Linked DNA regions of Homo sapiens: regions 1 and 3 are each reported to be linked to region 2. The links are microRNA targets in miRTarBase. Many come from high-throughput screens and were not tested one by one. Region 2 holds a microRNA gene; each other region holds the end of a gene's coding sequence.

Region 1 (3,360 bases), not on the chromosome of region 2:
ACCATATATGCAGGCAACTATGATTCTGATTTAGGTCCTAGCTTTACTTTCCTTTAGTACAACTGTTGTTTGATTACCAACGAAAAACTAAGCAATCTGGCTAGAGGGATACTAGTACCTTCTTTCAAATGTCAGCATGGAGATAAAACAAAATAGTGATAACTGTCATCTTAGAAACTTTTTAGATATAATAATGGCAATTCAGTGGCTGGATGACATTTCCATTGATTCCATTGTATAAGAGTAGCAAAACCCCAAAATATGAAAATGGCAATGATATGTAGCATAATGTTTTCAAAGTATAAAAAAAACCCTGCTGTTGGTAGTGACCTTTGAAATTGTACTTTAAGCTTACAACACTGATTTGCTTTTCTTGTGTGTCTGACATTACACTTCCTTTTTTTTTTTTTTTTTTTGGTAACACAAAATTACCCAAGGTATAGTAAACAAAGAAGACACAGACAATAAAAACTAACAGATGCCACATTTTGCAAACATAGCATTTGGCTAGAGGCAGAATTATAAGGTATACATATTAAAACATACATCCAAGACTCTCCTCCTCAATTTGAAACCATGTTTATCAAGTTTTTACTTCATTGTATATAAGCCAAAAAATTAAGAGAACCTTGATTTGTTCCTGAAATACAAGATTTGCTTGTATTATTACTGGACCAGGTAGACTGGATATGTGAATGTTTAATTCATAGTTAGCTAGCTTTACCATCATCTCCTGAATCAGCTGCTGAGGATGCCTGTGCCTCTGCCCATAACTATATATAGAGTATGCTTTCAAAACAATATAGGCCGGGTGTGGTGGCTCACACCTGTAATCCCAGCACTTGTGGAGGCCAAGGCGGGCGGATCACGAGGTCAAGAGATTCAGATCATCTGGCCAACATGGTGAAACCCCATCTCTACTAAAACTACAAAAATTAGCTGGGCGTGGTGGTGCATGCTTGTAGTCCCAGCTACTCAGGAGGCTGAGGCAGGAGAATCCCCTGAACCCGGGAGGCGGAGGTTGCAGTGAGCCAAGATCGCGCCATTGCACTCCAGCCCAGCCACAGGGCAAGACTCCGTCTCAAAAAACAAAACAAAACAAAATAGATTTGTTTCCCCCTGCACAATCTGGAATTACCATTTCTTCAGAGCACATACAGGCATTTCATCTTTCAACCTGTAATTTCTCCTAACTCATGTTTTCATGTAAATTAAAAACACATGCACTAACAAATAAATATACAGCATATATCAAGAACACAATATAATTTGAAAGTGTCGAAGAAAATACTTATACAAAATTTAAATAAAGAAATCATTTTGTCGAACTCTAGTCCATCTTATTGTCTAAACACATATTTGCAAAATATTTTCAAAAGATTGTATGATTATGTGCAAAGTTCTTAGTGGTCTTCATCCACTGGTTTGGTAGTTTCAGCATTTTGCTTACAACAAGTAATTCTTTATGCAATGTGAACTAATTCTGAATTGCAGTAACTAACTAGGTCATAGAAAGATATCTATGTGAAAAAAAATCACTACAATTAACCTTTAGCCTGCTAGACTTAGTTTCTTAATTAAAAAAACAGTATAGAACCTTCTATAATTAATTTTCCAACCTTTTTAAAAAAAATTACCAAACATCTTGTTGACAGAACATTTGATGTGATGGGCAGACATGCATATTGAGGATATATAGTACTCAGCAACAACTTAAGTGTTTTATCCTTACGGTCAGCTTTGGTTAAAACAGTAACATAACAAAATTAATAGAATCATGCATCGCAGGTGATAAATGATTCAAAATGACAGGAAATCAATTTAATTAAGAAATAGCAACACTTAAAAAATGCATAGGGTTGAGCACCCGTATTATTGAGGGTGGATAATTTAAATGTATAGAAGAAATCAGTTCAGAGTTTAATGATTGAATAACATTCTCTTTAGCAACTATGAGTGTGAAATTTTGGTTAATGATACCGAAAATATTAGGTTATAGGAAGTTACAGTATTACATAAGGTGAGCAAAATAATCTAATCCAATTAATATAACGCCATCTGGGGGCTTGCCAGACAGTCACAGTGGCAAACTGCTGAAATATGAAAGGCTGCATCATATGTGATACATATTCCCACTGCTAATACATGGTGCCACACAATCAGTTGTATCCTGCCATGGTCCATCTTCATATGTGGAGGGAACCTTGGCTGGATTGGACAGAATGATTGTGACCTGGGGCAGGTTCCATCCCTTGCAGTTAGACTAAGGATAAACCTGGTTATATGACAAACTAAGAATGCCAAATGTGTCCAGCTCAATTCTGAAGAGGAATTAATATACTTAAAAGGTCCATTTATAAATGAGATTCCAATGGCCACAATTTTAGAGTCTAATCTGGCTTCTTATATTTCAATCTGCTACTCTTAAACCAACAAACAGTAGTACACAGTTTTATTGGTGCAAAACTAAACAAATCCAGGAAGGTTATTCATATAAGAATCTTCAACACAAATTCTGCCTTTATTTACAAAATGGTCTGATAAAATATCGCCCCCCCCCCATACTTACAGGTCTCTTCCACAACACACTTCACACGTTGATTTTAGCAATATTAATAGCACCATTCGTATATTATTTAAAATCAAGAAGATTTCATTTCAGTTACTATGTTGATTCATCATCATTTACATCCATGGATGAGATAAGTGAGTATACTGGGACTATCTGCTGCTCCATGGTAAGGATTCCTGGGTCCAGCACAAAAGGCTTTGCAGTTACCAGTTATGAAAGGTATCTATGGTAAGTAGATACTATGAGAATTTTCGTGCCACAAAGTTTAATAATCCTCCATGTTTGTATAATGTTATTTCCACATCATCTTCAAACGAAGCAATCACGCTGAATACTTTTCCAGTGCTTGTCTTGAAAGGAGCAAAAACATCTCATGTGAGCAAGTAAATCTTCCAGGTGCTACTTGATGGTTAAGACCATTTGTCTTCATATTTAATGACTATACTTGCCACAGATTCTGTCTGATTTATCTTGGTTCTAATTTCTTATATTCTGATTGCCTGAAACTTTGCTGCTGCTTGAAAAACACCTGAGATACCTGACCATGGGCTTCATAGTTAAGTAGAAAAATAGCTGCATTTAGATTTTGACTTATTAATTGGGGAAGTTATACTCACTACTCACATTCATTTTACACCAAATATTGATTGCATGTAATCAGTAACTCCTACTCTTTCCCCTTTTTTCTTAGTTGTAAAGTCTGTTTTGCTCTAACTTTGAACGCTCAACTTTGCTCTCTTTGGAGTGGTATGTATGCCTCGGTTAAAATTAGATCAGGACAGCAAAAA
Region 2 (3,360 bases):
TCATGCCTGTAATCCCAGCCCTTTGGGAGGCCAAGGGAGGAGGATTGCTTGAGCTCAGCAGTTTGAGAACTGCCTAGGCAACATAGCGAGACCTCGTCTCTACTAAAAATAAAAAAAAATCAGCCAGGTGTGGTGGCATGTGCCTGTAGTCGCAGCTACTTGGGAGGCTGAGGTGGGAGGATCACTTGAGCCCAGGAGATTGAGATTGCAGTAAGCCATGATTGTGCCACTGCACTCCTGGGCAACAGAGCAAGACCCTGTCTCAAAACAGAAAAAAAAAAAAAGATAATTCATGGAGAGAGAGATTATCAAGGAAGATTAAGCTCCTCTTATATGTTAGGTATCGTATAGTAAGTCTCCCTTCCATTCTTATCCTCTGGGCCCATTAGAGGCTGCCGCTGTTTTTTTGTTTTTTTGTTTTGCTTTTTCGAGATGGAGTTTTGCTTTTGTCACCCAGGCTGGAGTGCAGTGGCACAAACTTGGCTCACTGCAACCTCCGCCTCCCGGCTAATTTTTGTATTTTTAGTAGAGACAGAGTTTCACCATGTTGGCCAGGCTGGTCTCGAACTCCTGACCTCAAGTGATACGCCTGCCTCGGCCTCCCAAAGTGCTGGGATTACAGGTGTAAGCCACTGCGCCCAGCCTGCCACTTTTAATAATTCTTGCATATGTTCCAGGAATACCTATGTGGATATATATGTATGTATGTGTGTATTTTTTTTAATGTGATATTTTTAAAATAGTGTCTTTTTTTTATTATTACTATTTTTTGCGACAGAGCCTTGCTCTGTCGCCCAGGCTGAAGTGCAGTGGCGCAGTCTCTGCTCACTGCAAGCTCTGCCTCCCTGGTTCAAACGATTTTCCTGCCTCAGCCTCCCGAGCAGCTGGGATTACAGGTGCCTACCACCAAGTGCGGCTAATTCTTATATTTCTAGTAGAGATGGGGTTTTGCCATGCTGGCCAGGTTGGTCTCACACTCCTGACCGCAGGTGATCTGCCTGCATTGGCCTCCCAAAATGTGATTACAGGCGTGAGCCACTGTGCCAGGCCAAAATAGGATCTTTATTTTCTAGAAATATGGGTAAGAATATTGATTTGTTTGCTTTTCAGTTCTATGTTGTACTAAAAATTTATTGATAAATGTATTCCTAAAGAGTAGAAAATTGAAATGCAGCCAGGCACGGTGGCTCACGCCTATAAACCCAGCACTTTGGGCGGCCAAGGCAGGCAGATCACGAAATCAGGAGTTCAAGACCAGCCTGGCCAACATGGTGAAACCTGGTCTCTACTAAACATACAAAAATTAGCCAGGCGCGGTAGTGGGCGCCTATAATCCCAGCTATTTAGGAGGCTGAGGCAGGAGAATTGCTTGACCCCTGGAGGCAGAGGTTACAGTGAGCTGAGATTGTGCCACTGTATTCCAGCCTGGGTGACAGAGACTTTGTTTTGGGGTTGGGGGCAGGGGTGGGAATTAAAATGCACCGTTCAGATCTTATATGCATCGCTGACAGGGAAACTTTTTTCAGGGTGAAGAAGGTGAATACAGTGAAGAGGAAAACTCCAAAGTGGAGCTGAAATCAGAAGCTAATGATGCTGTTAATTCTTCAACAAAAGAAGAGAAGGGAGAAGAAAAGCCTGACACCAAAAGCACTGTGACTGGAGAGAGGCAAAGTGGGGACGGACAGGTTAGTACATTCCACAGTCCTCCATTTTAGAGGCTGGAATAGAGATTCTTGAGGCTTGGAAGAGTAAGGATCCCTTTATCTGTCCTCTAGGAGAGCACAGAGCCTGTGGAGAACAAAGTGGGTAAAAAGGGCCCTAAGCATTTGGATGATGATGAAGATCGGAAGAATCCAGCATACATACCTCGGAAAGGGCTCTTCTTTGAGCATGATCTTCGAGGGCAAACTCAGGAGGAGGAAGTCAGGTAAAAGCCACTTGCTGCTGCTGCTGTCTAACATGTATTTTACACATGTAGGCCAGGTACTTCGATTTGCCTGTATTTCATTTATTACAGCATTTTAAGATAAGTATTATGATTATCCTTATCGTACAAATGAGGAAAGTAGGCTTAGAATATTTGGTAACTCTTGGTGAGGCAGCTAAGATACAGACCTAGGACAGTTTGTTTCCAGAACTCATCTTCTCTTAATTATTATACTTTTGCTTTTCTTAGTCTGAGGTGTAAGGCGTCTGAGAAGTGAAATACTTGCATAGGTTGCCTTTTAGGAGAAAGGAGATGTTTCAAAGGTACTGAATGGCATGAAATGAAGTCTTTTTCTCATTTCTGTGTCTGTTATATTTGAGCCCAGCAGGCCCTGAGGTTCTGTGATTCACGCTTGCTTTGGGGAGGCCTGTTTTTTATAATCTCTTTGGGATGATGAGGAGACTACGTAAAGTTCCTATTGTCCCCCTGCCTCCCTGACCCATTTTGTTCAAGAACATCTCTACTTGGAGAATTCTGCTGACCCAAGACACTTTTCCTTCATTTTATCCAGACCCAAGGGGCGTCAGCGAAAGCTATGGAAGGATGAGGGTCGCTGGGAGCATGACAAGTTCCGGGAAGATGAGCAGGCCCCAAAGTCCCGACAGGAGCTCATTGCTCTTTATGGTTATGACATTCGCTCAGCTCATAATCCTGATGACATCAAACCTCGAAGAATCCGGAAACCCCGGTGAGGACATTTTAGAACATAAGACCAGGCTGGGTATGGTGGCTTACGGTGGCTTACACCTGGAATCCCGGCACTTTGGGAGGCTGAGGCAGGAGGATTGCTTGAGGCCAGGAGTTCAAGACCAGCCTGGGGAACATAGTGAGACCCTGTCTCCAAAAAAAAAAAGAAAAAAAGGAAAAAAAAAATAGAGTGTAGACTCTTGATATCTTTTAGAAAGAATTCTCTTTGCTTTTCTTTTTATTTATTTATTTAAGACAGAGTCTCGCTGTGTTGCCTAGGCTGGAGTGCAATGGCATGTTCTCGGCTCACTGCAACCTCCACCTCTTGGGTTGAAGTGATTCTCCTGCTTCAGCCTCCTGAGTAGCCAGGATTACAGGCGCGTACTATCGCGATCGGCTAATTTTTGTATTTTTAGTAGAAATGAGGTTTCGCTATGTTGGCCAGGCTGGTCTTGAACTCCTGGCCTCAAGTGATCTGCCCGTCTCGATCTCCCAAAGTGCTGGGATTACAGGCCTGAGCCACCGCGCGTAGCCTCCTTTTGTTAATTTCCTAACAGTTTCTTCATTCCATTTTTTGTAGATATGGGAGTCCTCCACAAAGAGATCCAAACTGGAACGGTGAGCGGCTAAACAAGTCTCATCGCCACCAGGGTCTTGGGGGCACCCTACCACCAAGGACATTTATT
Region 3 (3,000 bases), not on the chromosome of region 2:
TCCCAAAATATTGGAATTATTGGCATGAGTCACCATGCCAGATCAAGAAAATATTTATGTATAATTTTATCATACCTCATTGGTCCTAATGTTTTTTTGCTTGTTTAGGTCCCTTTCTAGAGATAGGAGAAGAGAGAGATCGCTGTCTCGGGAGAGAAATCACAAGCCGTCCCGATCCTTCTCTAGGTCTCGTAGGTAAGATCTTTGATAACTTGTATTTAAGACTTTGCATACATAGTATGCTAAGGCCTGTCTTCTAAGCCATAAATTTTTTACCTTAAAGTTCTATTTCGATATGTCACTAAAGTGTCACCAAGTTACAGATGTAATGTTTTGTTTTCTTTTTTTTTTTTTTTTTTTAGTCGATCTAGGTCAAATGAAAGGAAATAGAAGACAGTTTGCAAGAGAAGTGGTGTACAGGAAATTACTTCATTTGACAGGAGTATGTACAGAAAATTCAAGTTTTGTTTGAGACTTCATAAGCTTGGTGCATTTTTAAGATGTTTTAGCTGTTCAAATCTGTTTGTCTCTTGAAACAGTGACACAAAGGTGTAATTCTCTATGGTTTGAAATGGATCATACGAGGCATGTAATACCAAGAATTGTTACTTTACAATGTTCCCTTAAGCAAAATTGAATTTGCTTTGAACTTTTAGTTATGCACAGACTGATAATAAACCTCTAAACCTGCCCAGCGGAAGTGTGTTTTTTTTTAAATTTAAATACAGAAACAACTGGCAAAAATTGAACTAAGATTTACTTTTTTTTCCATAGCTGGGATATAGGCTGCAGCTATAGTTGAACAAGCAGTCTTTAAAAACTGCTGTGAAACACAGGCCATCAGGGAAAACGAAATGCTGCACTATTAAATTAGAGGTTTTTGAAAAATCCAACTCTCATCCTGGGCAGAGGTTGCCTAGTTGGTATAGAATGTTAAGTTTCAAGAAAGTTTACCTTTGCTTTAGGTCATAAGTTCCTTATTTGATTGCTGTATATGGATACATGGCTGTTCGTGACATTCTTTATGTGCAAATTTGTGATTTCAAAAATGTCCTGCCAGTTTAAGGGTACATTGTAGAGCCGAACTTTGAGTTACTGTGCAAGATTTTTTTTTCATGCTGTCATTTGTAATATGTTTTGTGAGAATCCTTGGGATTAAAGTTTTGGTTACAAATTGTTCTTTAACTTGAAAGCCTGTTTTTCCTTGCAAACTCAAATCTGTGAGCTTGGTACCAAGTCCAGGTATAACATTCCTATTGGAAGCCATACTTATATTTTCTTGTAAAGTGCTTTTGAATTAATAAAATATTAGCATAATTGTGTATAGTCAGTTGAACCCACTGTTACCATTGTTCTTATCCCATGGGAAGCAGTTGGTTACACGATTCTTATTTTATAAGAAACAGCTGAGAGGCACTATGGATTAGTCTTCTGAAGTGAAGGAAATATAGATGTCACCTAAGTGATAGTTAACCCATTTTTTTTTTTTTTAGGCATAGAAGCCAGTTCAGGGTCCATAATATTTAGTGACCAACATTTTAAAGTATAGCAGCAACCTGGTTCTTAAACACAAAGTAAGTTGCCCATTAACAAATGGCTTTTATCTTTAGCATGAAAACTTTCCACAGGTCTAAAAATTGCTTCCATTTTATAATTTGAGGTGTTGCATGGGAATTCTAAGCTGATCCATCATGATGTAAAAGTTCACAATATGGTTCAAATGTAACAGTGCAGAATTGAATATGGAGGCATGCATAACCTTCCTCTTAGAAAATGGCAGGTGTTGTAATTTCAAATTTTTGTGCAATTAGATTAAATCATAATGCAACAGTCTTGTGGCTTAGTTTCCTTAAATATGCTCTTAAGATAGTTTTGGATTATGCGGTATTGACTGTCTTAAATATGAAAGATAAGTCATTGCATTAAGAGTTCAAGCTAAATGGATACATTAAGATACAGTTCCTAAACAAATTATTTATTTCCACCTTTTACACAAATCTTGGGAGAATTGGTGTCAGGAAGGTTCAGCCTTAAAGTTAAGCATGTTCAAGAAAGACACTTTTCAGACAGCCTGTTTATTTACTGAGAGCTCTGGCATTGGGCATTTTGTCTTTAGTATTCTCACATAGCCTACAACCTGTTCCTGTTAGGAACAAGCCAAGATAGCTAAGAAGTTACGGAAGCCATGCAATATGTCAATTACATTGCTTTTTATAAATGGACAACTTATGTGGGCATTTTTGGGCAGTATATGACTTCCTTGCAGGCTCTTAAGTTGGAAGGGTTTCTGTAAAAAGGACAGTTACGGGTATAATATGGCTAAGAGAAATAATACAGAACCTGAAATAAAAGTAACTTCACCAGGGAGTTATCCTGACTTAGGTGACATACAGTCCCAGTTGGCAGTTACTTTAACCAGGAGCCCTAGCATAACCTCAAGACTCTTAGAAACTTTAGAACATGGAAATTGTTAAAAGCTTTGAATTGCACATTTAGATTGTGGCTATTAGGAATTTTTAAAGTTGTAATTCCTAAAATAACAGGTCACACTAACCGGTCTTGTCCATATTCAGGGTTGAGTGTAAAAATGAAAGGAATCACAAAACTGAACTTAGACCTGTGGTTTAAGGATCAAGGTGTTCACTAGAAGTCACTGTTACTAATACTTGATGACAATGTAAAGAAACATTAAGGATTATATTTGATTGTTTTCAAAGACACTGGCTGGATGTGGTGGCTCACACTTGTAATTCCTAGCACTTTGGGAGGCTAGGGCGGGTGGGAGGATCTCTTGAAGCCAGGAGTTGGAGACCAGTCTGCCCAACATGGCAAGATTCACATTTCTATTAAAAGGAATATTTAGTTTGATCTCTGGTTCACAGTTCATTGTGGGTTGCTTCTGACCTCCATGTCTTAAGCAGAAAGTAGGGAAGTTGTAGTTTTACCAAGCACAGGTACCCTGTGTCTACCATTTGAGTATCTTAGAGATCCTTACAAACG

The links. The annotated mature microRNA hsa-miR-6866-5p reads UUAGAGGCUGGAAUAGAGAUUCU and lies in region 2 at 1,712-1,734, shown strand. An mRNA with a match to its seed (bases 2 to 7 or 8) in the 3' UTR can be bound and repressed. Matches are read on the target gene's strand: a 7mer-m8 pairs with bases 2 to 8, a 7mer-A1 pairs with bases 2 to 7 and ends in A, and an 8mer does both.
Region 1: miRTarBase lists IREB2 as a target of hsa-miR-6866-5p. Seed matches in the 3' UTR shown: 7mer-m8 at 509-515.
Region 3: miRTarBase lists SRSF3 as a target of hsa-miR-6866-5p. Seed matches in the 3' UTR shown: 7mer-A1 at 679-685.

Annotation. Positions count from the first base shown.
Region 1 is chr15:78,497,595-78,500,954 of GRCh38, reverse strand. IREB2 (iron responsive element binding protein 2) reads right to left here. Exons shown (of 22, transcript NM_004136.4): 22 at 1-2,922. The coding sequence ends at 2,812. Among named protein-coding and RNA genes, the nearest start is that of HYKK, 8.3 kb to the left of the region's middle.
Region 2 is chr17:40,160,227-40,163,586 of GRCh38, forward strand. It overlaps MIR6866 (microRNA 6866), which reads left to right and starts at 1,707; the gene lies at 1,707-1,775. It overlaps CASC3 (CASC3 exon junction complex subunit), which reads left to right. Exons shown (of 14, transcript NM_007359.5): 4 at 1,527-1,685; 5 at 1,776-1,927; 6 at 2,499-2,675; 7 at 3,255-3,360.
Region 3 is chr6:36,601,600-36,604,599 of GRCh38, forward strand. It overlaps SRSF3 (serine and arginine rich splicing factor 3), which reads left to right. Exons shown (of 6, transcript NM_003017.5): 5 at 109-195; 6 at 363-3,000. The coding sequence ends at 390. Among named protein-coding and RNA genes, the nearest start is that of SRSF3, 8.7 kb to the left of the region's middle.